Regions from separate parts of the Homo sapiens genome. Here all the other regions are linked to region 1. Evidence: fine-mapped QTL for protein levels in blood plasma. A gene starts in region 1. Each other region holds a variant in brackets. All regions are shown on one strand. Distances are from middle to middle.

Region 1 (5,106 bases):
TATTTCACCCAGCCTGGGAGGCAGGAAATATTAGTGTCCCAGTTTTATAGAGGAAGAGGTGGAGGCACAGAGAGGGAAGGTGACTTTCCAAAGATCACACAGTACTTGGAAAAGCTGTGGCTGGGCCCCTGCCCTGTTTTATATCCTCATGCAATTATCCATGTGGGTCTGGAGGTCAGAGAGACTTCCCCAGGCACAGAAGCCATTACACAACAGGGTGGCCACAGCTGTGCAAGGGTTGTGGGTGATCACAGTGCCCAGAAAGCACCAAGGTCAAGGTCACAATGGGAGCACTGAGACTCTTCCTGGGGGGTTGAGCAAGTTGTCTTGAGGAGAGGCCGTGGAATGAAAGCCTTGGACCCTGAGTAGGAGTTTGCCTGGACAGTAGTGTGGGAAGACGGGCAGTGGAGAGGTGAGCAGCAGCAGAGGAAATGGCAAGAGGTGTGGTTTGGGATGTGGTCAGGGCTGGAGGCCACACTAGCATGGCTGGTGGGAGCCAAGTCCTTGAATACCCAAGAGTTTGGTGCCAGTCTTCTAGTGGGCCAAGTGCCTGTATTGGTTGTCCAAACCAGCTCAGACTGGCTCCCGTGCTCACATGTGGCTCAGTGAACTTGGTGACCTCAGGAGATGTGAAATAAAAGCAAACCCTCCCCACCACCCGCTGCCTTGGTGGTTTGGAGATCCAGATCCTCTCCACGCCTCTGTGTTGTGGCAGCCCCAGGGACAGTGAGCAGCTTAGCAGGGAGAGTGGGGTCCTTCGCTTAGTACATTACATCCCGAGCTTCCAGGGCAGGATAGACTAGGGGATGAAGGAAGGAAGGAAGGCAACACCCAGAGTACTCTGGAATCTGGTTTATTAGCTGGGGGTTGAAGTGGCAGGGAAGGACAGTGTTGGGGCGAGGCCTCCAGTCACCCAGTTCCTCCCCGGGCTGCTCCTCCCGACTGGACCAGGGTAGGTTGAGCTGCTGGGAGTGGAGTATCATGGGTGGCCCTTTCTGCAGGAGAAAAGAGCTTCCCTGCTGCGGAGGGGAGGCAGGCAGTGGGCAAGCCCCCCTAGCATCCGGTACAGGCAGCGTAGGCACAGATTTCACATGTGCCCGGGTCCTCAGCGATTTCCTCTGCACAACAGAGATGGAGCCTCGTGAGAACCAGCATTTCCTCGCGAGGCCCCTGCCGCCCTTGGCCCAGAGCTTGTACGTCACCACCCAGCCCCAGGAGAATCTCAGCAGGCCCGTACTCTGACCTACTGGGCTTTTCGCCCCAAACCAGGGCACACAGACCACTCAAACCAACCAATCAAAGCAGAGATTCCACCAGAAAGAGAGGAAACTAAGACCAGATGAATGGTCTTAGTTCCCAAACCTCAGCAGTTACAACTTGGAATTGAAGTGGGCATGGAACAGACCCACCAATCAGAGCCAAGCTCCCTAGTTCCACCAGTCAGAGCTGAGCCCTTCCTCCAAATCCCACCAATCAGAGCACATCTCTTCCTCAAGTGCCACCACAGTATTCCCGAACCCCACCAATCAGAGAGGAAGGAGGCTGCTCACCCAGCCTCTGAAGTATCTCCTGGGCATTGGGCTCCTTGCAGAGAGGCTTGAGTTCTTCTGGAAAGTTCGGGTTGCTACAGAGGATGGGAACCACAGGTTCACCAGGGATGGGTGCAAAGTTCCTGAGTTTCCCAACCCTGGGCTCCTGGGGCTCCTGGAGGTCTTTGAGCTTCTTCACTGACTCCAGAGAAAAGGAGAAATTTCCATCCTGGAAGAGAGAAGCCCAGAGCATGAGGCCAGGCTGCAGCCTGCTTCCTGGCTGTGCCCCCCGTGCTGGCCCCGGTCCAGCCCAGTGGTGCTCACAGGCAGTGTTCGTGGCATATGGGAGCCAGGCGATCCACAGTGGGGCACTGTGAGGGGCAGAGTTCAGGCCCCACGTCCTGGCTTGGCTCCGTGATGCTGGACACTCTGGAACCCGCAAATTCTGCATGTTGTATGGGGAATGGAGAAAATGGGTGTGAAGCTCCAGGAACACCATAGGTGCCTAATGAGTAGGAGCCAGTGTGCTGATTTTTAGGGAGAGGCAAAGGACCAGCACCCAGGCATCGTAGTTCCACGTGGCCAAGCCCAGGCTGTCTTTCCCCTGCCTGAGAGCGGTGCGGCTGATTACTGGGCCCCCAGCTCCAGCCTGCAGCCTGGTTTTGGTTTGAGAAGCAATAAAAGGCCTCCCGGAATCTGGCTTTGATAGAGATCAGGGCCCCCGCTAGGTGCCAGCTTGGCCTGTCGCCAGCATTGGCACTGGTAGGCATACCCATCTGTCAGGACCTCCAGGGTGTCCATGTGGTTCCTGGGACCCACTGAGGAGTAAGGTCTGGATTTAAATCCAGCTCCTGCACTTCCCACAGCCATGTGCCCATGGCCTGTTACAGAACCTTTGTGAGGCTCAGTTTTCCCCTCTGTAAAATGGGACTAATGATCCCTTTCTTCCAGGTTGATAGTGGAGCCACAGTGAGGGGCTGGGGAAGGAGCCGGCACATAGGACACTCAGTAAATTGGCCAACTCCCCGCCTTCCCCATATGGTTATTCCTCTTCCCTCCACTGGGTTTCTTTCTCCTCCAAAGTTGAAGGGAAAGGTGTGTGTGTGGCTGGACTGAGCAGGAGCTCCTCGAAGAAGGCCAAGCCTGGGACACACACCCTCAATCCAGCCCCAAAGAGGAGGTACTCTCTCAGGGGACCAGACCTGGGCACTAGGGGCAGGGAGCCAGCTGGGCCGGGGTAGGGACACAGGACTCACCTGCACGGTGACCCCTCCTGCCAAGGCGGCCCAGGCCCCAAGGAGGCACAGTGCGGAGAGCAGGAAGGCATTCATGGCAGCAGTGCCCGAGAGAGGGGTGGCTGTTCTGGATGCCAGGGGGAAGCGGCGGGACTTTTAAAGAGGGCAGGTTACTGAGTAACCTGGAAGCCTCTGTCAGTCTCATCTGCTCACCTGTCAGGCCTTATCAGATAAGGCTCGAGACAGCCCTAGGAGATAAGAGCCAGGCAGGGGGGGCCCCGGCCCCTCCCTGAGCACCTACTTTGACCCACAGCCGGGCTGGGTCCTGCATTCATTCACCAACAAGGCACATTCACTCACGACTGCCCTGTGCTGCTGTGTGGGGCCGGCAGACCCTGCCCTTGAGGAGGGGGGCCCAGCCCGACAGTGAAACGCAGGGCGATTAGGGTGGGGTGATCCTAGGATGAGGTGACGGGGCTGCACTGGGGGCTGAGCTCTGGAGAATGGGTGGAAGTTTTCCCAGAGAAGGGACTGAGGACAGAAGGCCATTTCATGCCAAAGGGACAGCCAGGAGGTGAGACGGGCCTGGAATATTCAGGGAAATGTGAGAAATTCCACGGGGGAGGCTGCAGGGCAAGTCAGGGTCTGGGTTTGATTGCCGCGACCTCAAGGAAGCCCTCCGCACAGCCTGGGTTCCGTTCCACCTACTGCCCAGTTGTGAGGCGTGTGAACTTGGGCCAATGCTTTCCCCTCTCTGAGTCTCGTTGTCCCTTGTGTCCCCTGTGGGAACCAAAAATAATACCTACCTCATGGGGTAGGTGTGTGGTAGGCATTACTGTTTGGAGAATCAAGTGAGGTTTTAAAAACATTTAGCTCAATGCCTGGCACACAGAAGGTGCTCAGCAGAGGTCCATTCCCATATTATTAGCAGCCACAGCAGCTCCTGGTCCTCCCTGGCCCCTCTGGTGACCTCCTGCCTGTCTGAGTCACAGGCTGTCCCCATCCTGTGCTGGTCCCCATCCTGTCCTGCCTGCCCTGCAGCCTCAGGGTGTCCTCGAATGAGCTCCTCCCCAATCCGCCCGCCCCCCTTGCCCCTGCAGATACAGTCCCCTTTCCGCGGATCTCACTGGGGAATTGCTTGGGTGTGCCCGCGCCCCTATAGACTCTGACCCCATTCAGACTGCGCCCTCAGGGCAGCGTGCATTCACTGTGTGCTGTTGTGAGCAGGAATCCCCAGGACACAGGAGAAAGGGTAGCCCTGGGATTGTCATCTTTCTACTCAGCCAACCTGGCCCGATGCCAGGACAGCCCTAGGGCGGGAGGTTGGGCAGGAATTCCTGGGTGGGGAGAGTCAACACTGAAGAGGGAATTGGAGAGAGCAGGGCCTGACCAGGAGGGAACTGCAGGGACAAGGCCCTCAGGGAGGGGCAGGTAGCTCCTGGCCCAGCTCCCAGGGCAGTCCTCACAGCTGCACTGGATTTCCCACCCCTTTCTGGTGAGTGTGTGTGTGTGTGTGTGTGTGTGTGTGTTAAGGGGGGGTGTGTCTGCGGAGATGTGTATGTCTGTGTATGCCAAGGTGTCTGTATATACCCTGATGGGTGTGTGTAGCCAAGGTGTGTTTGTATGTGTGCTTGTGCTGAAGGTGTGTGTGTGCTGAGGCATGTGTGTACACTGAGGAGTGTATGTGTATATATGCTGAGGTGTATGTGTGTGTATGCTGAGGGGTATATGTGTGTCCGTGTACACCAAGGTATCTGTGTCTGTGCAAGGAGGTGTGCATATATACATCGAGGTGTGTGTGTGTCAGTGTGTATATACACAGGCGCGTGTGTGTACACCGAGGTGTGTGTGTTTGCTGGGATGTGTGTCTGCTGGGGTGTCTGCTGGGGTGTGTGTATGTGCACTGAGGTATGTGTGTGTGTATGCTCATGTGTGTATATGCACTGAGATATGTGTGTGTATGTGCACTGAGGTGTGTGTGTGTATGCTGAGCTGAGTGCATCTGCTGTGTTGTGCGTGTGTGTGCCGAGGTGTGTGTATACACTGAGGTGCATGTATGCGCTGAGGTGTGTGTGTGCTGACGTGTGTGAGTGCTGACGTGTGTGTATACACTGAGGTGCGTATGTGTGCTGAGGTGCGTATGTGTGCTGAGGTGTGTGTGTGCTGACGTGTGTGTATACACTGAGGTGTGTGTGTGTGCTGAGGTGTGTGTGTGTGCTGAGCTGTGTGTGTGCTGATGTGTGTGTATACACTGAGGTGTGTGTGAGTGCTGATGTGTGTGTATACACTGAGGAGCGTGTGTGTGCTGAGGTATGTGTGCGCTGATGTGTGTGTATACACTG
Region 2 (5,106 bases), 370 kb before region 1:
TTTATTTGCAGCTGTGAGTTTATTTTACACTTGATCTTAGCCAGAATGCTAAGAAGTGATGGTTATGAGTTTATTTTAATATGACCTACAGAAAATTTAAAATGACCTACGGAAAATTACAATCAAGCTCATAATTTGGCAGACCTTATTGTTTAGGTCAAAGCTAAGTAAACAAATCAATGTAAACATATTTAAAGAACATAAATAAATACTAGTGTAGGTGATAGGCTAGTGTGTCATGAATTGCCAAGATGGGGCACACAGACTATTTGGGAGCTATTGATCTAGTCTGAGCCCTCTAGTTCTATAAGGAGGAAACTCTAAACAGGAAGTAGTGAGCTGAGACCTTGGTCAACAATGTAGTCACCGGCTGGGTTGGGACCAGACAGTTGCCCCATGCCCTGTCCTCCCTGTCCTGTCATTCTGCCCCCTCAACAGACTCATCAAGGTCACATTTAAATAAGTACACACAAAAGCAGCTTATGCATAGACAGCTTGTCATCAGACAGGATCACACGTAACACCCAGGTCAAATCCTCTGCCATGTCAAACAAGATAATCCCATGGAGTAAAAGCAACTCCTTTACAAAACAGGGTCAGGTGCTACTTTCTGACTCCAGGGTCAGAGAGGCTGGTGGAACTGGCTTCTCTGGCTCTGCCACTTCTTAACTGCGTGCTATGATTTGGATGTTCATTCCCCCAAATCTCATGCTGAAATTGGATCCCAGTGGTGGAGGTAAGGCCTAGTGGGAGGTGTTTGGATCATGGGGTGGATCCCTCATGAATGGCTTGGTAACCTATCCCTCAAGAGCTGGTTGTCAAAAGGAGCTTGGCACCTCCCCTCTCTCTCTTGCTCCCTCTCACACCATGGGATCTCTGAACATGCCAGCTCCTCTTTGCCCTCTACCATGAGTGGAAGCAGCCTGAAGCCCTCACCAGTAGCCAGTGCTAGTACCATGTTTCTTGTATAGCCTGCAGAACCATGAGCCAAATAAACCGCTTTTCTGTATAAATTACCCAGCCTCGCATATTACTTTATAGCAATACAAACAGATTAACACACCATGTAACCTTGGAAATGTTGCTTAATCTCTCTGTGCTTCTGTTTTCAGATGTACAAACTGAGATAAGAGGTGGTAAATCTAGTGCACAGAATGTGAGGATTAAATGTGAGTTTCCTTTCTTCTTCCTCTAAGAGCAAGAGCAAGTACCTCCCGCCAAAGATATGGGAGAATCCTTACGTAGGAAGCTCTTTATCTATCTGTGAGTTCACCCATCACTCTCTGACTACAAAACCTTCAGCCACTCCCTGTTTCTTACCACTGCAAATCTGCAGGCCTCAACAATGTGGCCCCTTCCCATCAAGCCAACTTTATCTCCTTGGTCCCTAACACTTGTCCTAGCATATCCCATGCTCCCTCATGGCCCCATGGACAAGATGCATCCATACTGACTCCCAACCCCTGTACCATTTTCTTCCCCACATTGGTGTATAGACTGATCTTGCAAAAACCCACATCTAATTAACCTTCCTCCTGAAAGCCTCTGCACAATTCACCCTTTCCTGTGGAATAAAGTCCAAACTCCCTACCACTGCAGTCACAGTCTCTCATCATCTAACCCCATTCCCTCTCCTGTAGTCATCCTTAGTTATCCATAATTCTCTCCCCACAGCACAGGCACACATGTGTACACACACACACACACACACACACACACACACACACACACACACGAGTCTACACTCAAGCCAGTCAGGTCCGCTCACTGTTCCTTCAATAGCTTGGGCTCCTTTGCACCTGCATATTTGTGCACTAGCTGCTTTTTATCCCTGGAACACTGCATTCCTTTCTTTGCTGGGTAAATGCCTTCTAACCCCTTAGCACTTTGCTGAAACA[G/C]AGCATTTTGTTTTGCAAACTCCCACCTCCACTCATCCCTTGCAGCTTAGGTGACTAAGTCCTGGCCAATAAGATGTAAGTGAAAATCACTGGGTGGAACTACCAAGAAGGCTCATTGAAAGGAGCACAGATGGCTGCATGGCCTTTCCACCTTTTTCTAGTTTTTTTATATATAATGGATGTGATGGCTGGTGCTCCAGCAGCCATCTTAGACACAAGGTCACCTTCAGAATGAAAATCATGCTCTATGGATGGAGAGGCCAAAGAGAGAAGTTGCCTGGGAATGCTGATATTGTGGTGCTACCATATACCAAGGCTAGACTGGCTCCCTTTGGTTCTTTTATGAGAGAGGAAGATAAACTCTTATGTGTTTAAGCCACTGTTATTTTAGTTTGTTGTTATATGCAGAAAATCGAATCCTAGCCAATATAACAGACATACAAGTCATTTCCTGATTTGGCTCCTACACACCTCTCTAGCCACACATTTCCCCTCCCCACCCCCAAACCCCATACTCCACACCTACTAATCTAATTTCAGTTTCCTCAATGCATCATGCTTTTCTCAGGCATCACACCCTTCCCCCTCTCCTCCATATCCCTCCTCAGACCACCTGGGAACACCTGCTCAGCCTTCCAGACCCAGCTCAAGGAACACCTCCTCCGTGAAGCCTTTCCAGATGCACTCTCTATACTTCTCCCAGGCAGAAGTGACCATTCCTCCCACTCCGTATGCCCCCAAATATCTACCATGAACCCTCTAACATGTCATCATTTAGTCATCCACCTGTACCTCCGAGGTCCTGAGTTGCTTGAGGCAAGAGCTATTTCAATCATCTTTGTCTCCAGCATGTAGCCCAGGACCTGGGAACACTGAGCACAAGTAAAGTTGTTCAGGGAAAGTTCCCCTGAGGCAAGGTTTCATCTGGGATTCTGGCCCAAGGGGCAGGGCTATGTCCTTGGGAGAGGATGGGGGCTCCTGCAGGGCAAAAGGGCTTGCTCTTGAGCATATTCTGCCCTAGGAGGCACCAGGAAATGTCTGTTGGGTGGGTAAATGAATGTGCAACTCAACCTCCCTTCAAGCTTCTCTCTCTAGGATGCTGACTTCCTCCAGCCGTGGTGGTGCTGCCTGTCACCATCTGACCCTCTCTGCTTCCCTTCCCCTGCCATACTTAGCAGGCACTCACAGCTGGAGGCAGGAGGCTCTCAAAGTGAAGGGAAAAACTCTTAGCTGCCACCATCCTGAAACCTGCCCTCCCCACAGCCACAAAAGGCCAAGGAGCATGGAAACAGCTGCTGCAAGGAGACCAGTGAGCAGGAAGGTGGGGCAGCCTCACAGGAGCTGCCCTGACTGGGGCCTTCCCTCTAGCAGTGACCTTGACTTAGAGAAAGGACACCTTCCATGGCCACTCAAACATACACATGACAGTTTCCCTCCACCTTCATTGCATACACTGAAGACAACTGGACAGAAAATAAAGAAAGTAAGGAGAACTTCCAGAACCATAGCCAGAAATGCAGAGTAACTTAAAGTAGCTCTGTTTTAATATATTGCTTGCTTCCCCCAAGGCCCTGCAGGGATGGAAGCTGTATCCTTCAAGGGCAATGGGATGAATAGTGGGGAGAGGAGAATGTTCAGGGGATCCTGGATTCTGCTCTTTCCAATGTGAATGGCCACCATATGGAAGAACGATTGGGCCACTCTCCCAGAAAGCTAATGATCAGTGTAGCATCAGCCCACACAGGAGTGGCCTGTCATGGGAGGCTCATACACTGTGTGCCATGAAGCAGTGGACATACTCAGAATCACATGCCACCACAAAGACTTCGGGTTCTGGGAACTTGGGACCTCCTGCCTTCTGGGGCTTCTTGGAACATCCATGCAGTCTGGCCCCAAGAATGCCAATTGCTCCTGATACCTGAGCCAACTTTCTGGGCTCCCCCTGTCTCATCAGGGATGCTCTCTATCTGCAGAGCACTACAAGTGGCTCAAGCCTGGTTCTCTGACTGCTTCAAAGGTCCTTCTCTTAATCTGGTTTACCTCACTCTTCTGCCTGCTTCTTGGAGCTCAGCTTCCTATGACTGGTGCCACAAAAGTTCCTAGGGTCACACACAGAGGGGCAGAGAAGCTGATCCACTGGAGAGGCTATTAGAACAGGTGGGAGGAGGCTGCACTGTGAACCAGGGTCTGGGGCCATGCCTTTCCCACCACATCATAAGCATTAATTCATTAATTCATTCACAAAATATATATTTAATGTCTACTACATGCTAGGCATAATTCTGGGAATAAAGCAATAGAAAAAAAACATGTGATGAAATATATTCAGGGAAATATATTTTGGTTTACCAAAGTAGAAAGATTTCTGTCCTGCAGGAAGGACTCAGAATTTTTACTATGTCAGCCACAGGTACTGTGACTTGCCCAGAAGGGTCTTAGCATATAGGCCCTTTGAGGAAGAAACATCAGTGTAGAAAATTTGAAAAACGTAGAAATGCACAAAGAAGAAAATAAAAATTACTGGTAATCCAACCACTCAGAAAATACTCTTATAAACATTTTTTGTGTTTGTCACTGAAATATTTTTATATACACATCTATAACTGCATAGATGTACCCACCATAACTTACAAAACCAATTCCCACATTCTTGTGTATTTAGATTGTCTCCAGTCTCTTAATATTGCAAACAATACAGTGAAGAGCATCCTTGTAAGTAATCCTGTATTAGTCAGTTCTCATGCTGCTAATAAAGACATACCCGAGACTGGGTAATTTATAAAGGAAAGAGTTTTAATGGACTTAGTTCCACATGGCTGGGGATGCCTCACAATCATGGTGGAAGACGTAGGAAGAGCAATGGGACGGCTTACATGGTAGCAGGCAAGAGAGTTTGTGCAGGGGAACTCCCATCTATAAAACCACCAGATTTCGAGAGACTTATTCACTATCACAATGACAGTAGGGGGGAAAATGCCCCCATGATTCAATTATCTCCACCTGGCCCCACCCTTGACACGTGGGAATTATTAAAATTCAAGGTGAGTTTGAGTGGGAACACAGAGCCAAACCATAGTAGATCCTTATCCATATCAGTGATTATTTTACTAGTATAAATCCTTGAAAGGGGAACTTATAGGTAAAAATGTAGAACTATTTGCTTTTATACTGCCAAAATGCCCTTTGGATATTTGAAGCAATTTATGCT
Region 3 (5,106 bases), 930 kb before region 1:
GAGACATAAAGTAAAATGGTAGTTGCCAGGAACTGGAGGGAGGGAGGAATGTATGCCATGGGTGCAACTAGCTGGGGCCTATGTCACAAGTGGTAAAGAAATTTACCAAGACAGTTATAGGTAAAGAAAGGCAGATTTGGCTGGGCGCAGTGGCTCACGTCTGTAATCCTAGCACTTTGGGAAGCCGAGGCGGGCAGATCATGAGGTCAGGTCAAGACCAGTCTGGCCAACATAGTGAAACCCCGTCTCTACTAAAAATACAAAAAATTCGCCAGGCATGGTGGTGTGCACCTGTAATCCCAGCTACTTGGGAGGCTGAGGGAGGAGAATCATGTGAACCCTGGAGGTGGAGGTTGCAGTGAGCTGGTGAGCTGAGATTGCACCATTGCACTCCTGCCTGGTCGACAGTGCAAGACTCTGTCTCAAAAACAAAACAAAAACAAAACAAAAGGAGGCAGATTTATTAGAGAAAGTATGAAAATATGTTGCAAAGGTGCAATAGGCAGCACAGCAGAGAAAGGGCTGTCTACAAAGAGGCAAGGACTGGAGGGAAGTTTTACAGGGTCATGCTGGAGGGGGCTATGAGGACAAGGTAGTTGTGCCAGTGGTTGTTTGTAATTAGCCGTCTCTCAGAACAATTGTTCATTGTTCTCCCCTACCTGTGGCTCCTTCCTCTTTGCTGCTTACTTATTGGGACTCCACAATGGGATGTATAATTATTGTTTAATGGATAGAGTTTCAGTTTAACAAAATGAAACAAGTTCTGGAGATGGATGGTGATGAGGGTTGCGCAGCAATGTGACTATACTTAGTACTGTTAAAAATAGTTGAAATGGCAAATTTTATGTTACATATATTTTACCACAATTAAAAAATAATTAAAGAAAACATTCTATAAGCTACATTAAGACCAGCAGGAAGCATATAAACAATGTAAGGAGCCAAGCACAGTGGCTCACGCCTGTAATCCCAGCAGTTTGGGAGGCTGAGGTGGGAGCATCACTTAAGCCTAGGAGTTCAAGACCAGCCCTGGCAACATGGTGAGACCCCATTTCTACAAAATAAAAAAAAAAATTAGCTGGGTGTGATGGTGCGCACCTGTGGTTCCAGGTACTTAGGAGGCTGCAGTGAGCCGTGATCACATCACTGCACTCAACCTGGGTGACAGAGCAAGATCCTGACTTGGGGAAAAAAAAAAAGAAAGGAATGTAGAGAGAATAGTATAATTATCAGACTTAAAATTTTAAATATTTAACCCTGAAAGCAACGTGGAAGATGATTAAAGGGGACCCAGAGCAGTTGTAGGCAAAGTGTTCAGATGCAACTGCAGTAATTCAGAAGAGAGATGACAGAAGCTTGGACCAGGTTGGTGGCAGTTAAGATTCATTCATTCGGAGGCCAAGGTGGGTGGATCACCTGAGGTCAGGAGTTCGAAACCAGCCTGACCAACACGGTGAAACCGTATCTCTACTAAAAAGACAAAAACTAGCCAGGCATGATGGCACATGCCTGTAATCCCAGCTACTTGGGAGGCTGAGGCAGGAGAATCGCTTAAACCCAGGGGGTGGAGGTTGCAGTGAGCCAAGATTGTGCCATTGCACTCCAGCCTAGGCAACAAGAGCAAAACTCCAACCCCCTACCAAAAAAAAAAAAGATTCATTAATTCATTTAACTTTTTAATGAATGCATTATATGCCATGCACTGTGATAGGAGTCACATATAAGAATAAGATTGGCAATGCGGCACTATTCACAATAGCAAAGACTTGGAACCAACCCAAATGTCCATCAATGATAGACTAGATTAAGAAAATGTGGCACATATACACCATGGAATACTATGTAGCCATGAAAAAGGATGAGTTCATGCCCTTTGTAGGGACATGGATGAAGCTGGAAACCATCATTCTGAGCAAACTATCACAAGGACAGAAAACCAAACACTGCATGTTCTCACTCACAGGTGGGAAGTGAACAATGAGAACACTTGGACACAGGGAGGGGAACAGCACACACCAGGGCCTGTCGGAGGGTAGAGGGCTGGGGGAGGGA[T/G]AGCATTAGGAGAAATACCTAATGTAAATGACAAGTTAATAGGTGCAGCAAACCAACATGGCACATGTATACCTATGTAACAAACCTGCACATTGTGCACATGTACCCTAGAAATTAAAGTATAATTAAAAAAAAAATAAGATTGGCAAGACCCCTGCCCTCATGTCCTCATGGAACTTAACAAGTAAGCAAATAAATAATTACATGTTGTGATTAAGTGCTATAACAGAATTAACAGAGTGACTGTGGAAGGGCAGTCAGTATGGCCTCTATGAGGAGGTAATGTTTAAGAATGAATCAAGAGTCAGGGGAAGACTCTCCCAGGCAGATGAAACAGTATGTGCCAAGTCTGAGAGACAGGAAAGAGCTTCACATCTTCAAGAAATGAAATGGGAGCCAATGTAACTAGAACTTAGCTAGGGGATGGTGGCACTATGTGAGGCTAAGAAGGTAGTCTCCATATCATGTAGACCACAAGGGAAAATATCATTTGTATATCCAATGCAATGGAAAGCCACTGAAGGATTTTAGGCAGAGATATGATCTGATCTGTGGTGACCGCATTGGTGGAGGATAGGGTACAAAAGTAGACACACGAAAGCCATATAGGGGGTTGATATAATGGTCCAAAAGAAGAACTATGGTGGCTTAGACTAGAATGAAGGAAGTGGTGAGGGAGGGGTAGAAAGATTCTTTAGATATTTAGGATGTAGTCCTAAGGGGTATCAGCAATGAACTAAAAATGGAGAAAAGATAATTTAACAAATGATTCCCAGCCAGGCACCATCCCAGCACTTCAGGAGGCTGAGGCGGGAGGATCACTGGAGCCCAGGAGTTCAAGACTAGCTTGGGCAAGATGGCAAGACTTTATCCCTATAAAATAAAAATTTAAAAATTAGCTGGGTTCCATAGCACACGCCTGAGGTCTTACCTACTCAGAAGGCTGAGGGAAGAGGATCCCCTGAGCCCAGGAATTCAAGGCAGCAGTGAGCTATGATCGCATCACTGCACTCCAGCCTGAGCAACAAAGCAAGACCCTATGTCTTAAAAAAAAAAAAAAAATTAAAGAAATGATTCTCAGATTTTAGGCCTGAACAAATAGATGAATTAGGGGGCTGTTCACTGAAACTGGCAACAATGAGTAAGTATCAGACTTACTTAGAGAGCTTTTAGAAAATATTAATTCCTATGTTCTATCCCCTTAGAGATCCCAATTCAATATAATTTTTTTGGCACATGGTACTTTTAATTTTAAAAATTTCTCCAGGCGATTCTGATATTCAACAAGGTTTGGGACTTGCTGCTACAAACGAAGTTAACCAGAGTAGATTATTATTGCTTGCAAATTAAAGAACCCCATATGATTAGAAATTGGTTTGTGGGAGTGGCACAAATGATAGTCCCTAAAACACAGAATTGACTGGATCAAAGTTGAGAACAGAACAGTAGAATTCTATATACCATGTTAAGAGGTTGGCCGTCTTTATAATATGCTATGAGACAGCTGATCAAACTGTGGTCTATTTTGTACTGGGATTCACTATTACTAGGACTTGGCATGTTTTTGACACTATATACATAAGAAACTGAGGCAGAAAAAGTTCATATGACATCCACCTAGTATACATTCTGGCACATGCATCTATCAACAAACTGCAGTTTGTCAGTCATTATCAAATGAGTCAACTAAATTAGGCACATCATTTTATGAAGAAATATGTTTTAATTAAATCTCAAAGAAATAACATCTAAAATTAGAATAATTTTATTATAACTTTTTAAAAATAAACTTTTTCTATTAGAACAGTTTTAGATTTACAGAAAAACTGCAGATAGCTCCCATATACCCTGTACTATTTCCCCTACTACTAACATTTTACATTAGTATGGCATATTTGTTACAATTCATGAACCAATATTGATACCTTATTAACTAAAGTCCACACTTTATTCAGACTTCCCTAATTTTTACCTGAGATTACTTTTCTATGACAGGACCCCATCCAGTATACCATGCTACATTATATTTAGTCATTATGTCTTCTTAGCCTCTTCTTGGCTGACACTTTCTCAAACGTTCCTTGTTTGATGACTTTAACAGTTTTGTGGAGTATTAGAAATTTTATAGGCCAGGTGTGGTGGCTCACGCCTGTAATCCCAGCACTTTGGGAGGCAGAGGCGGGCAGATCACGAGGTCAGGAGTTCGAGAACAGCCCGGCCAACATAGCGAAACTCGGTCTCTATTAAAAATACAAAAAATTAGCCGGGTGTGGTGGTAGGCACCTGTAATCCTAGCTACTCAGGAGGCTGAGGCAGGAGAATCGCTTGAACCCAGGGAGGTGGAGGTTACAGCGAGCCAAGATCTCACACACCGCACACCAGCCAGGGTGACAGTGCAAGACTGTCTCAAAAAAAAAAAAAAAAGAAATTTTATAAAATGTACCTCAGTTGGGATTATCTGATGTTTTCTCATGATTAGACTCAGGTTATGGCTTTTGGGGAGGAAGAGATCTTAGGTAAAGTTATTATATCTGTCACCTAAATAGTAAAACCCACTGAGGGAAGAAACCCTATCTTATTCTCACCTTTTTATCCTTAGTATGTAGCTGGTAAAGGTTGAAAAACTGCAAACCAAAGGTTGAAGGGGTACAGAAATGTTATAATTTATTAAAATATGAGCACTGATCCTAACGAGGAATCTAGTCATATATCTGCTCAAATTAAAAAATAAATATGACTTTGATTTGCTAAACCATTTCATTCTTCTAACCAGGGATCTTTTGTTTGCCGACATTGTTTGGTGAGATAGAAGATATATTCAGACTAAAAATATATGTGTCAATTCCTGCAAGTAAACTTTGCCTCCTGTACTGATAAAGTCTCAGAATTACATAACACTGCTGTGGGGCACATATATGGTGAAATGAAAAGAGGACTGGGGTTGAAGTCAGGCTGGTCTGGGCTTGAAACCAAGTCCTATTACTTATAAACTGCATAATCTTGGCCAGCTATCTCTGAGTCTCAGTTTCTTTATGTATAAAATAGAGGTGATAC
Region 4 (5,106 bases), 280 kb before region 1:
GCCCAACCATTCCTCTTCAGATCCAAGGATATCTAAGTCTGACTGTGGAATTTTGTTGCGGAGGATTGGATACAGCTGTCAAATTCCAAAGGCATCCAGTACCCATGCTCTCCACAGAGCAGTCCCTTATTATACAAGCTCTGCACCAGCTGAGAACCATGTTCCAGTCTCATATTGCTCAGAATCTCCTCTGAGCTTCACATAACTCAGGCACAATCTCCCTGAATCATATGGCATAGGAAAGTCATGAGCAGTAAGACTTGGTTCAAGAAAAAATACCAAGTTCTGACCACTCAAAGTACCCTTAGGTGCTCTCATTCATGTGAGCTTTCCGTTTCCTGCTCTCCAGCCCCATTTCTTATTTGGGTTAGGGATCCCCTAGGGCTGCTCAGTGGTAGGGGGCCACTGAATTCAAAGCAGGCCACTGTACTCGAAGTAGATGGCTAGGAAAAAAAAAAGGGCCAGTCACAGTGGTTCATGCCTATAATCCCAGCACTTTGGGAGGCTGAGGCAGGCAGATCACTTGAGGTCAGGAGTTTGAGACCAGCCTGGCCAACATGGGGAAACCCTGTCTGTACTAAAAATATAAAAATTAACTGGGCATGGTGGTGCATGCCTGTAGTTCCAGCTACGCGGAGGCTGAGGCATGAGAATCACTTGAACCCAAGAGGCAGGGGGTGCAGTGAGCTGAGATCACCTCTGCACTCCAGCCTGAGTGACAGAGTGAGACTCCGTCAAAAAATAAAATAAAATCCTTCCTTCCTTCCTCCTTCCCTTCCTCCTTCCCTTCCTCCTTCCCTTCCCCCTCCTCTTCCCCTTTCCCTTCCCCCTTCCCTTCCATTCCCTTCCTTTCCTTTCATTCCCTCCCTCCCTCCCTTCTTCCCTCCTTCCTTCCTATTTCTGAGCACTTCTTTCCCAGGCACAAGGTAAACGAGCTTTCAAATATAGCACACTGAATACCCATGATAATTCTATAAAATGGATCCTATTCTTCCCATTTTAAAGATGAAGACCCCAAGGCTCAGAGCAGTGAGGTGCAGATTTACTGTGATGCTAAGGAAGAAAGTTTCAGGGCCCTGCCAGCATGGACCCCTTTCAAGGCCCTAGCAATATATTCTTAGAATCATGTAATTTTTAAATGAAATTTGCAGTAGTAAGATATTTTAACTGCAATTGATGAAGAGCACTGTATCTTTCAACTCTGATGTCTCCTCCTGATACATTTCCCCTCATGTTCATATTGAATGGTGTTACAGTAGCTATAGGTGTTTTGGGATCCAGCATAAGGGAAAGTTAATTTGGGGATAAATTTAGTTTGGGTGTAGTGGGATTTATGTCTATTGTTCACAGTCACGTTAATGCAAAGTCAAGTGATTGTTAGCTGTCCCCATGGCTTCCAGTGCTAAGCTTTCCACAACTCAATGGCTTTGAGACTCAAAGGTGCAATACCTGGCACCTGAGACATAAAAATAGGGGAGAAAAAATAGGATTGAAATATACAGAGCGGTCCGGGTGCGGTGGCTCACACCTGTCATCCCAGCATTTTGTGACACCGAGGCAGGCGGATCCTCTGAGGTCGGGAGTTCAAGACCAGCCTGACCAACATGGAGAAACCCTGTCTCTACTAAAAATACAACATTAGTTGGGTGTGGTGGCACATGCCTGTAATCCTAGCTACTCGAGAGGCTGAAGCAGGAGAATTGCTTGAACCTGGGAGGCGGAGGTTGTGGTGAGCTGAGATCGCGCCATTGCACTCCAGCCTGGGCAACAAGAGTGAAACTCCATTTCAAAAAAAAAAAAAAAAAAAAAAAAAAGAAGGAAAAGAAAAGAAAAAAGAACTATACAGAGCCAGAAGCTAGAGCATAGAACTTTCTTCCAGTCTTTGGACATGTGGAATTGAAGGAAAATTTAGTTTTCACTGATGCCTATTCGAAAAAGAAAGTTTTCTCCTATCAGAAATGTATTTGATAATATAATGAATACAGTTATAAATATACCAGACATTTTCCCCCTTTTTGGTGGGAATTACACAAAATATATTTTATCAAAATTCCTGTATTGTAGGACCCAAACCTATGGCAGTAAAACAAAAAAAAGTGGATGTCTGTGTCTGAAGCCATGTTTTATGCAATGTAACTATCAATAATAAAAAATAAATATTGTCAGTCATGCTAGAAGAAAAGCTAAATTTTCTTTGCAACCTCCCTTTAGAAAAATTACAAAATCACTATCATATGAAGAGGTGATCAAAGTGTATTCAGCCAAAATATATTCAGGGAAAAAAGTATTATGGAGGTTTCACAGGCAAATAATAAAAATATTTTGTTATTTTTCTGGATTTTATAAAGTTTGTGATACATGTCAGGTTTTAAAAACGTATATTGAATGTGATTTATTTTCTTATTCTAAATAAATATTCACCATGGTACCTAATTTTGTATTTGTAATTTTATATTCTTTTTCTTAAAGAGGTCCCCCAGTTGCTTAAACTTCAAGCCCTACAAAATCTCAACCCATCCCTGGAGGTGAAATAACTTTCCCAGCCAGGAAGTGGCAGACCCAGGACTAGAGAACTTGGTCCCTGACTTTGGGATCCCCTGAACTTCACACATTTGTGCCCAGTCATCCATAGGGCAGCCTGGGCTACAAGGGTCAGGGTGCTAGTGGAGAAGGTCAAAGGATGATGAATTTGTAAACTGGATACCATCACTGCAGCCAGCACATGTGGCTTCTACCTCACCTGAGCAGACAGCAAGAGGTTTTCTGAAGACCTGAGTATGCAACTGACAAATCCCGACTCTGTTAAAACCAAGTGCCCAGATTAAAGATAAATAGCCCCAAATCCCCAAACAATATAATTGAATCTGGTTTGATTCTTCTGGGTGTCACATTCCCTAAACTTGCACTGTCCAAAATGGTGGTCCTGGCCACATGCGGCTATTTAAATTAATAAAAATGAAATGAAATAAAAAATCCAGTCCTTCAGTTGCAGTAACCACGTTTTAAATACTTAATAGCCACATGTGGCCAGTGGTTTCTGAGTCAGACAGTGGAGATATAGAATGCTCCCATCACACCCCCACCCCAGGCTCTACTGTT[A/T]AGCCCAGCTGAACTTTTTTTTTTTTTTTTTTTTGAGACTGAGTCTCTGTCGCCCAGGCTGGAGTGCAGTGGCGTGATCTCAGCTCACTGCAAGCTCCGCCTCCTGGGTTCACGCCATTCTCCTGCCTCAGCCTCTCAAGTAGCTGGGACTACAGGCACCCACCACCACGCCCGGCTAATTTTTTTTTTTTTTTTTTTTTTTGTATTTTTAGTAGAGATGGGGTTTCAACATGTTAGCCAGGATGGTCTCAATCTCCTGACTTCGTAATCTGCCCACCTTGGCCTCCCAAAGTGCTCGGATTACAGGCATGAGCCACCACGCCCGGCCTAGCCCAGCTGATTTTAAACAGTCTTTACTAAGACATATCTAAGCCCTTCTTCTCAAGAAGAGTGTTTGCAGGTGAGTGTGGCCGATATGTGAGGAGAGAGGAGAAGGAGGAGAAAGGAAGGCCTATCCAGAGAGAAGAGAGGGACAGCCCAGCTGAGAAGGGGCCAAAGAGGGGGAAAAAGGAAATAGAACCTAAAGTGACTGAGGTGTTAGGCCTTGTAGAGAATAAGGGCATCATCAGATGTGAGCCAAGGAAATGATTCAGATCACACCTGACAGAATAAGGAGGATAAATTAGCTCCAGAATCAGTTATCACATACCTCATGTACCCCCCAACATACACACCATATACCTCACACCCCCCACACACATACCACACACACACATGCCCCCCACACCACATACCTCACACATGCGCACCCCCACATACCTCATACACATACCAAACACACACACACCACATACCTCACACATATACCACACACACATGCCCCCATACCACATACCTCACACACACACCACATACCTCACACACATACCCCACACACGTACACCATATACCTCACACACCACATGCCACATACACACACAAAGACCACACATGCCACACACACACACAAAGACCACACATGCCACACACACACCACATACCACATACACACACCACATACCTCACACGCTACACACACACACACACACCACACAACACATACACCACACACACCACACATACGCCACATACCTCACACACCAAACACACACAAGCACCACACACACACCCCCCACATACCTCACACATCACACACACCTCCATATACCTCACAAACACACATATCTCACACACACACACACCACATACACCACACACCCCACACCTCACACAGTCCCACCCCACATCCCCTGCTACACACAAACTCACACACTTTAAAGTGTGCTTTGCATTCCAAGTCTTTGCTGGGAAACCTTAGTTGCAGCTTTACGTGGCTGGAATATCAAAAGGCAGGAGTTGTGGAGTCACTGACAATAACATCATCCACCTTCTCAATGTCCCCGACACTGCCACCTCATTACCCAAAAGCCACTGCCATTCCAGACCTACGCAGAGTCTGAAGGGCAGCACCCCCTTCTCCTTGGGACTGGAGGGACACCTTGCCTCAACTCTCCTGCAGGGCCTGAGGTTAAACTCTCCTGTATTCCACCATCAAAGGACAGCATGGGGGACTCTAGCCCTTTTAATGGGCTGCCAAGAGCAAAAATTCACGCATTCTAGAGTATGAAAGCCCGGCAGGGTGGGCCTTCATTTCCCATATGTTAGTGTGTATCGATGGAGAGGGTAGGGAGCCCTGTGGGGAATGAGGGCACCCATTGTCCCCTGCAGAGCAGTTGTGGATGGAGCTCCTGTAGGAATAACGGACTCTGATTACCACGGTGACACTCCCAAGGTGATGGCTCTGGATAGGGTTTGCAGTCTCCTTTATACTCATCACTCCCATCTAATCCTCACAAGAACCCTGCTCCCCACTTAATGAACAAAGAAGCAGGCCTAGAAAGGCAAGTGGCTTGCCCGGAATTAACAATAATAGTTTAACCATAATAACATTGCCCCATCTGCTCACCATCCAATGAACAACTCAAGTGACAGCACAGTGGTTAAGAGAACAGATTCTGAAACAGATGT
Region 5 (5,106 bases), 220 kb before region 1:
ACACACTAGCAATATGTAAAATGATACATGCACAAAGCTATTTGTCAAAACACAATTTGTAATAGTAAATAAATGAAAACAACCCCCAAATGTTCATGAATTAGGGACTAGTTGCATTCATAAAACTGAGAATTATATGAATAATTCTCAGACACAGAAAGGAGTGAGGAAAATCTCTATATATTGCTATGAAGGAATGTAAGTGAAAATACAAAATTCAGAAGAATGAACATAATATGCTACTTTTTAATATAAACAGGAAGATATATACATATTTGTTTATATTTTCTTTTTTTTTTCTTTTTTTGAGACGGAGTTTCGCTCTGTCGCCCAGGCTGGAGTGCAGTGGCATGAACTTGGCTCACTGCAAGCTCGGCCTCCCGGGTTCACACCATTCTCCTGCCTCAGCCTCCCAAGTAGCTGGGACTACAGGCGCCCGCCATCACGCCCAGCTAATTTTTTATTTTTTTTATTTTTTAGTAGAGACGGGTTTCACCATGTTAGCCAGGATGGTCTTGATCTCCTGACCTCGTGATCCACCTGCCTCGGCCTCCCAAAGTGCTGGGATTACAGGCATGAGCCACCACGCCCAGCCACATATTTGCTTATATTCTCAAAAAGAAGAAATGGAAAGATAAACCAAAAATTAATAAAATGGGTTACCTATAGGAGAAAGGAAAGAACAATGGGAAGAGGATTTAGGTGGAAGCTGGATCTCTTTGAATGTATCATATTTTATAGTTTTAAGTTCAAAATCATGTAAATGTTTTGCATAATTTTAAAAAATTAAATAGAAAAGAAACAAAGTAATCTATAAAAATCAAAACAATCTGAAATACTCAGTGGCTTCCCACTACCTACCTTGACTCCAAATTCCTGAGCCTGAATTCAATGATCTCTTTAGTCTGCCCAGCCAAATATTCCCACTTCACTTTCTGAGGCCCCCTTCTCCATCTTCTCTACACACAGACAAACTATTAACATTATCTGTGTGCCTAATTTATTTTGCCAGCTAGACCATACTTCTTTGAGAATGGAATCTAGTTCTGATTTATTTTTGAAACCTAAAATTCTCAGTGTCTAGAGTTATTACCAGAACATAAATTAGTACGGTTATGGCATCTGAAAGTTATTGGCAGGAAATTTTATGTTTATTCTGAAGAATTCAAGGAAGCCATAGCTTTTTGATAATATGTAAAATATCTGGCTAAAGAGTAACTTTCTAGTTACAAAACAGAAAAAATAATTGAAGCAATCTGATATCCATCAGCAGATGAATGGATAAATAAAATGTGGTATATCCATACAATGGAATATTATTCAGCCTTAAAAAGGAAGGAAATTCTGACACATGCTACTACACAGATGAACCTTAAAGACAGTGTGCTGAGTTAAATAAGTCAGTCACAAAATAACAAATACTGAATGATTCCACTTATATGAGGTACTTAGAGTAATAAAATTCATAGAGACAGAAAGTGGAATGATGGTTGCCAGGGACTGGGCAGGAGGTGAGAGGAAGTAGGAGTTATTGTTTGATAAGTCCAGTTTTAATTTTGTAAGATATAAAATGTTCTGGAGAAGGATAGTACCAGGTTGCACAATATGAAGGTGTTAAATGCCGCTGAACTGTATGCTTAACAATGGTTAAAATGGTAAATTTTGTTATGTGTATTTTGTCACAATTAAAAACAATTTTAACAAGGAAAACAAGACATTTGGGAATATCTTTTAATATTGGCTCCTTTTATTAATGTAACAAAGTTTTAACCAAGGCTATCCTCTCCAGAGCCATTAAGGATCACCTAGGGAAGAGACGGCTTTTTGCTTAGAACATGGTACCATGTTACCTACACTCTCTCTGAAACGAATTTGCATAAGAACTGTTGTTTATGGGAATGCATCTTGACGGGGCAGCTGGGTTGCTATGAAATACTCAGGAACCCAGCCCAGCTCTAGGACTCACCCCTGAGCACAAACGCAATGTTGGACACACTGGTAAAGGACCACTGGAATCCAGCAGCCCGGATCCCTTTCTTTGTGGTCAAGAAAGGCAGGAAAAGGGATGCAGGACTGCTACATCAGTGAGCATCACTAATCCGATAAGCAGAGGTCCATGGGTGGTGATGCACCCTGGAAAGGAAAAAGCATTAGGACCATAGAGGACGCTCTAGGACTAATGCTCATCGGAAAATGACTAGGGGTGCTGGCATCCCTGTGTTCTTTTTTCAGATGGGAAACATTCCCCCCAAGGCAAAAACACCCTGAAGATA[T/C]ATTCTGGAGAACTGGGGCCAATTTGACCCTCAGACGCTAAGAAAGAAACGATTTATATTCCTCTGCAGTACTGCCTGGCCACAATATCCTCTTCAAGGGGGAGAAACCTGACCTCCTGAGAGAAGTATAAATTATAACCCCATCTTACAGCTAGACCTCTTTTGTAGAAAAGAAGGTAAATGGAGTGAAGTGCTATATGTACAAACTTTCTTTTCATTAAGAGACAACTCACAATTATGTAAAAAGTGTGATTTATGCCCTACAGGAAGCCTTCAGAGTCTACCTCCCTACCTCAGCATCCCCCTGACTCCTTCCCCAACTAATAAGGACCCCGCCTTCAACCCAAACGGTACAAAAGGAGATAGACAAAGGGGTAAACAATGAACCAAAGAGTGCCAATAGTCTCCAATTATGCCCCCTCCAAGCTGTGGGAGGAGGAGAATTTGGCCCAGCAGAGTGCATGTACCTTTTTCTCTCTCAGACTTAAAGCAAATTAAAATAGACCTAGGTAAATTCTCAGATAACCCTGATGGCTATATTGATGTTTTACAAGGGTTAGGACAATCCTTTGATCTGACATGGAGAGATATAATGTTACTGCTAAATCAGACACTAACCTCAAATGAGAGAAGTGCCGCCATAACTGCAGGCCGAGAGTTTGGTGATCTCTGGTATCTCAGTCAGGTCAATGATAGGATGACAACAGAGGAAAGAGAACGATTCCCCTCAGGCCAGCGGGCAGTTCCCAGTGTAGACCCTCACTGGGACACAGAATCAGAACATGGAGATTGGTGCCGCAGACATTTGCTAACTTGCATGCTAGAAGGACTAAAGAAAACTAGGAAGAAGCCCATGAATTATTCAATGATGTCCACTATAATACATGGAAAGGAAGAAAATCCTACCGCCTTTCTGGAGAGACTAAGGGAGGCATTGAGGAAGCATAGCTCTCTGTCACCTGACTCTACTGAAGGCCAACTAATCTTAAAGGATAAGTTTATCACTCAGTCAGCTGCAGACATTAGAAAAAAACTTCAAAAGTCTGCCTTAGGCCCAGAGCAAAACTTAGAAACCCTACTGAACTTGGCAACCTCAGATTTTTACAATAGAGGTCAGGAGAAGCAGGCGGAACGGGACAAACGGGATTAAAAAAAGGCCACCGCTTTAGTCATGGCCCTCAGGCAAGTGGACTTTGGAGGCTCTGGAAACGGGAAAAGCTGGGCAAATTGAATGCCTAATAGGGCTTGCTTCCAGTGCAGTCTACAAGGACGCTTTAGAAAAGATTGTCCAAGTAGAAATAAGCCGCCCCTCGTCCATGCCCCTTATGTCAAGGGAATCACTGGAAGGCCTACTGCCCCAGGGGACGAAGGTCCTCTGAGTCAGAAGCCACTAACCTGATGATCCAGCAGCAGGACTGAGGGTGCCCGGGGCAAGTGCCAGCCCATGCCATCACCCTCAGAGCCCCGGGTATGTTTGACCATTGAGAGCCAGGAAGTTAACTGTCTCCTGGACACTGGCGCAGCCTTCTCAGTCTTACTTTCCTGTCCCAGACAATTGTCCTCCAGATCTGTCACTATCCGAGGGGGTCCTAGGACAGCCAGTCACTACATACTTCTCTCAGCCACTAAGTTGTGACTGGGGAACTTTACTCTTTTCACATGCTTTTCTAATTATGCCTGAAAGCCCCACTCGCTTGTTAGGGAGAGACATTCTAGCAAAAGCAGGGGCCATTATACACCTGAACATAGGAAAAGGAACACCCATTTGCTGTCCCCTGCTTGAGGAAGGAATTAATCCTGAAGTCTGGGCAATAGAAGGACAATATGGACAAGCAAAGAATGCCCGTCCTGTTCAAGTTAAACTAAAGGATTCTGCCTCCTTTCCCTACCAAAGGAAGTACCCTCTTAGACCCGAGGCCCTACAAGGACTCAAAAGATTGTTAAGGACCTAAAAGCCCAAGGCCTAGTAAAACCATGCAGTAGCCCCTGCAATACTCCAATTTTAGGAGTACAGAAACCCAACGGACAGTGGAGGCTAGTACAAGATCTCAGGATTATCAATGAGGCCGTTGTTCCTCTATACCCAGCTGTACCTAACCCTTATACTGTGCTTTCCCAAATACCAGAGGAAACAGAGTGGTTTACAGTCCTGGACTTTAAAGATGCCTTTTTCTGCATCCCTGTACTTCTTGTTTGCCTTTGAAGATCCTTCAAACCCAACATCTCAACTCACCTGGATTGTTTTACCCCAAGGGTTCAGGGATAGACCCCATCTATTTGGCCAGGAATTAGCCCAAGACTTGAGCCAGTTCTCATACCTGGACACTCTTGTCCTTCGGTATGTGGATGATTTACTTTTAGCCACCCGTTCAGAAACCTTGTGCCATCAAGCCACCCAAGCGCTCTTTAATTTCCTCGCCACCTGTGGCTACAAGGTTTCCAAACCAAAGGCTCAGCTCTGCTCACAACAGGTTAAATACTTCGGGCTAAAATTATCCAAAGACACCAGGGCCCTCAGTGAGGACTGTATCCAGCCCATACTGGCTTATCCTCATCCCAAAACCCTAAAGCAACTAAGAGCATTCCTTGGCATAACAGGCTTCTGCCGAATATGGATTCCCAGGTATGGCAAAATAGCCAGGCCATTACATACACTAATTAAGGAAACTCAGAAAGCCAATACCCATTTAGTAAGATGAACACTTGAAGCAGAAGTGGCTTTCTAGGTCCTAAAGAAGGCCCTAACCCAAGCCCCAGTGTTAAGCTTGCTAATGGGGCAAGACTTTTCTTTATATGTCACAGGAAAAACAGAAATAGCTCTAGGAGTCCTTAC

Direction of the effects. Positions count from the first base shown, and alleles are read on the strand shown. Strength reflects both the effect of a copy and how common the allele is.
For the plasma level of the protein whose gene starts at base 2,893 in region 1, C is the low allele of the variant in region 2 and G is the other (weak association).
With allele T in place of G in region 3, the plasma level of the protein whose gene starts at base 2,893 in region 1 is higher (moderate association).
With allele A in place of T in region 4, the plasma level of the protein whose gene starts at base 2,893 in region 1 is lower (weak association).
As copies of C replace T in region 5, the plasma level of the protein whose gene starts at base 2,893 in region 1 goes down (moderate association).

What was found. PIP is the chance, under the fine-mapping model, that this variant and not a neighbour inherited with it causes the effect. Protein levels are from antibody-based Olink assays in UK Biobank. Linkage for the fine-mapping came from a reference panel and not from the study's own genotypes, which makes the PIPs less certain.
Region 2: its variant is fine-mapped to the plasma level of the GUCA2A protein (UK Biobank, PIP above 0.99).
Region 3: its variant is fine-mapped to the plasma level of the GUCA2A protein (UK Biobank, PIP above 0.99).
Region 4: its variant is fine-mapped to the plasma level of the GUCA2A protein (UK Biobank, PIP above 0.99).
Region 5: its variant is fine-mapped to the plasma level of the GUCA2A protein (UK Biobank, PIP above 0.99).

Annotation. Positions count from the first base shown.
Region 1 is chr1:42,161,853-42,166,958 of GRCh38, forward strand. GUCA2A (guanylate cyclase activator 2A) reads right to left here and starts at 2,893. Exons shown (of 3, transcript NM_033553.3): 1 at 2,786-2,893; 2 at 1,551-1,758; 3 at 838-1,118. The coding sequence starts at 2,860. The coding sequence ends at 1,054. RefSeq lists an enhancer at 2,753-3,717.
Region 2 is chr1:41,789,431-41,794,536 of GRCh38, forward strand. The region is part of intron 1 of HIVEP3 (HIVEP zinc finger 3); the gene reads right to left. Among named protein-coding and RNA genes, the nearest start is that of HIVEP3, 130 kb to the right of the region's middle. The variant G/C (reference allele first, on the strand shown) is at 1,899.
Region 3 is chr1:41,227,562-41,232,667 of GRCh38, forward strand. All of the region lies in intron 1 of SCMH1 (Scm polycomb group protein homolog 1), which reads right to left. Among named protein-coding and RNA genes, the nearest start is that of SCMH1, 12 kb to the right of the region's middle. The variant T/G (reference allele first, on the strand shown) is at 2,053.
Region 4 is chr1:41,884,925-41,890,030 of GRCh38, forward strand. All of the region lies in intron 1 of HIVEP3 (HIVEP zinc finger 3), which reads right to left. Among named protein-coding and RNA genes, the nearest start is that of HIVEP3, 31 kb to the right of the region's middle. RefSeq lists a silencer at 3,190-3,399. The variant A/T (reference allele first, on the strand shown) is at 3,100.
Region 5 is chr1:41,942,611-41,947,716 of GRCh38, forward strand. It overlaps a transcript of HIVEP3 not described here. Among named protein-coding and RNA genes, the nearest start is that of HIVEP3, 26 kb to the left of the region's middle. The variant T/C (reference allele first, on the strand shown) is at 2,274.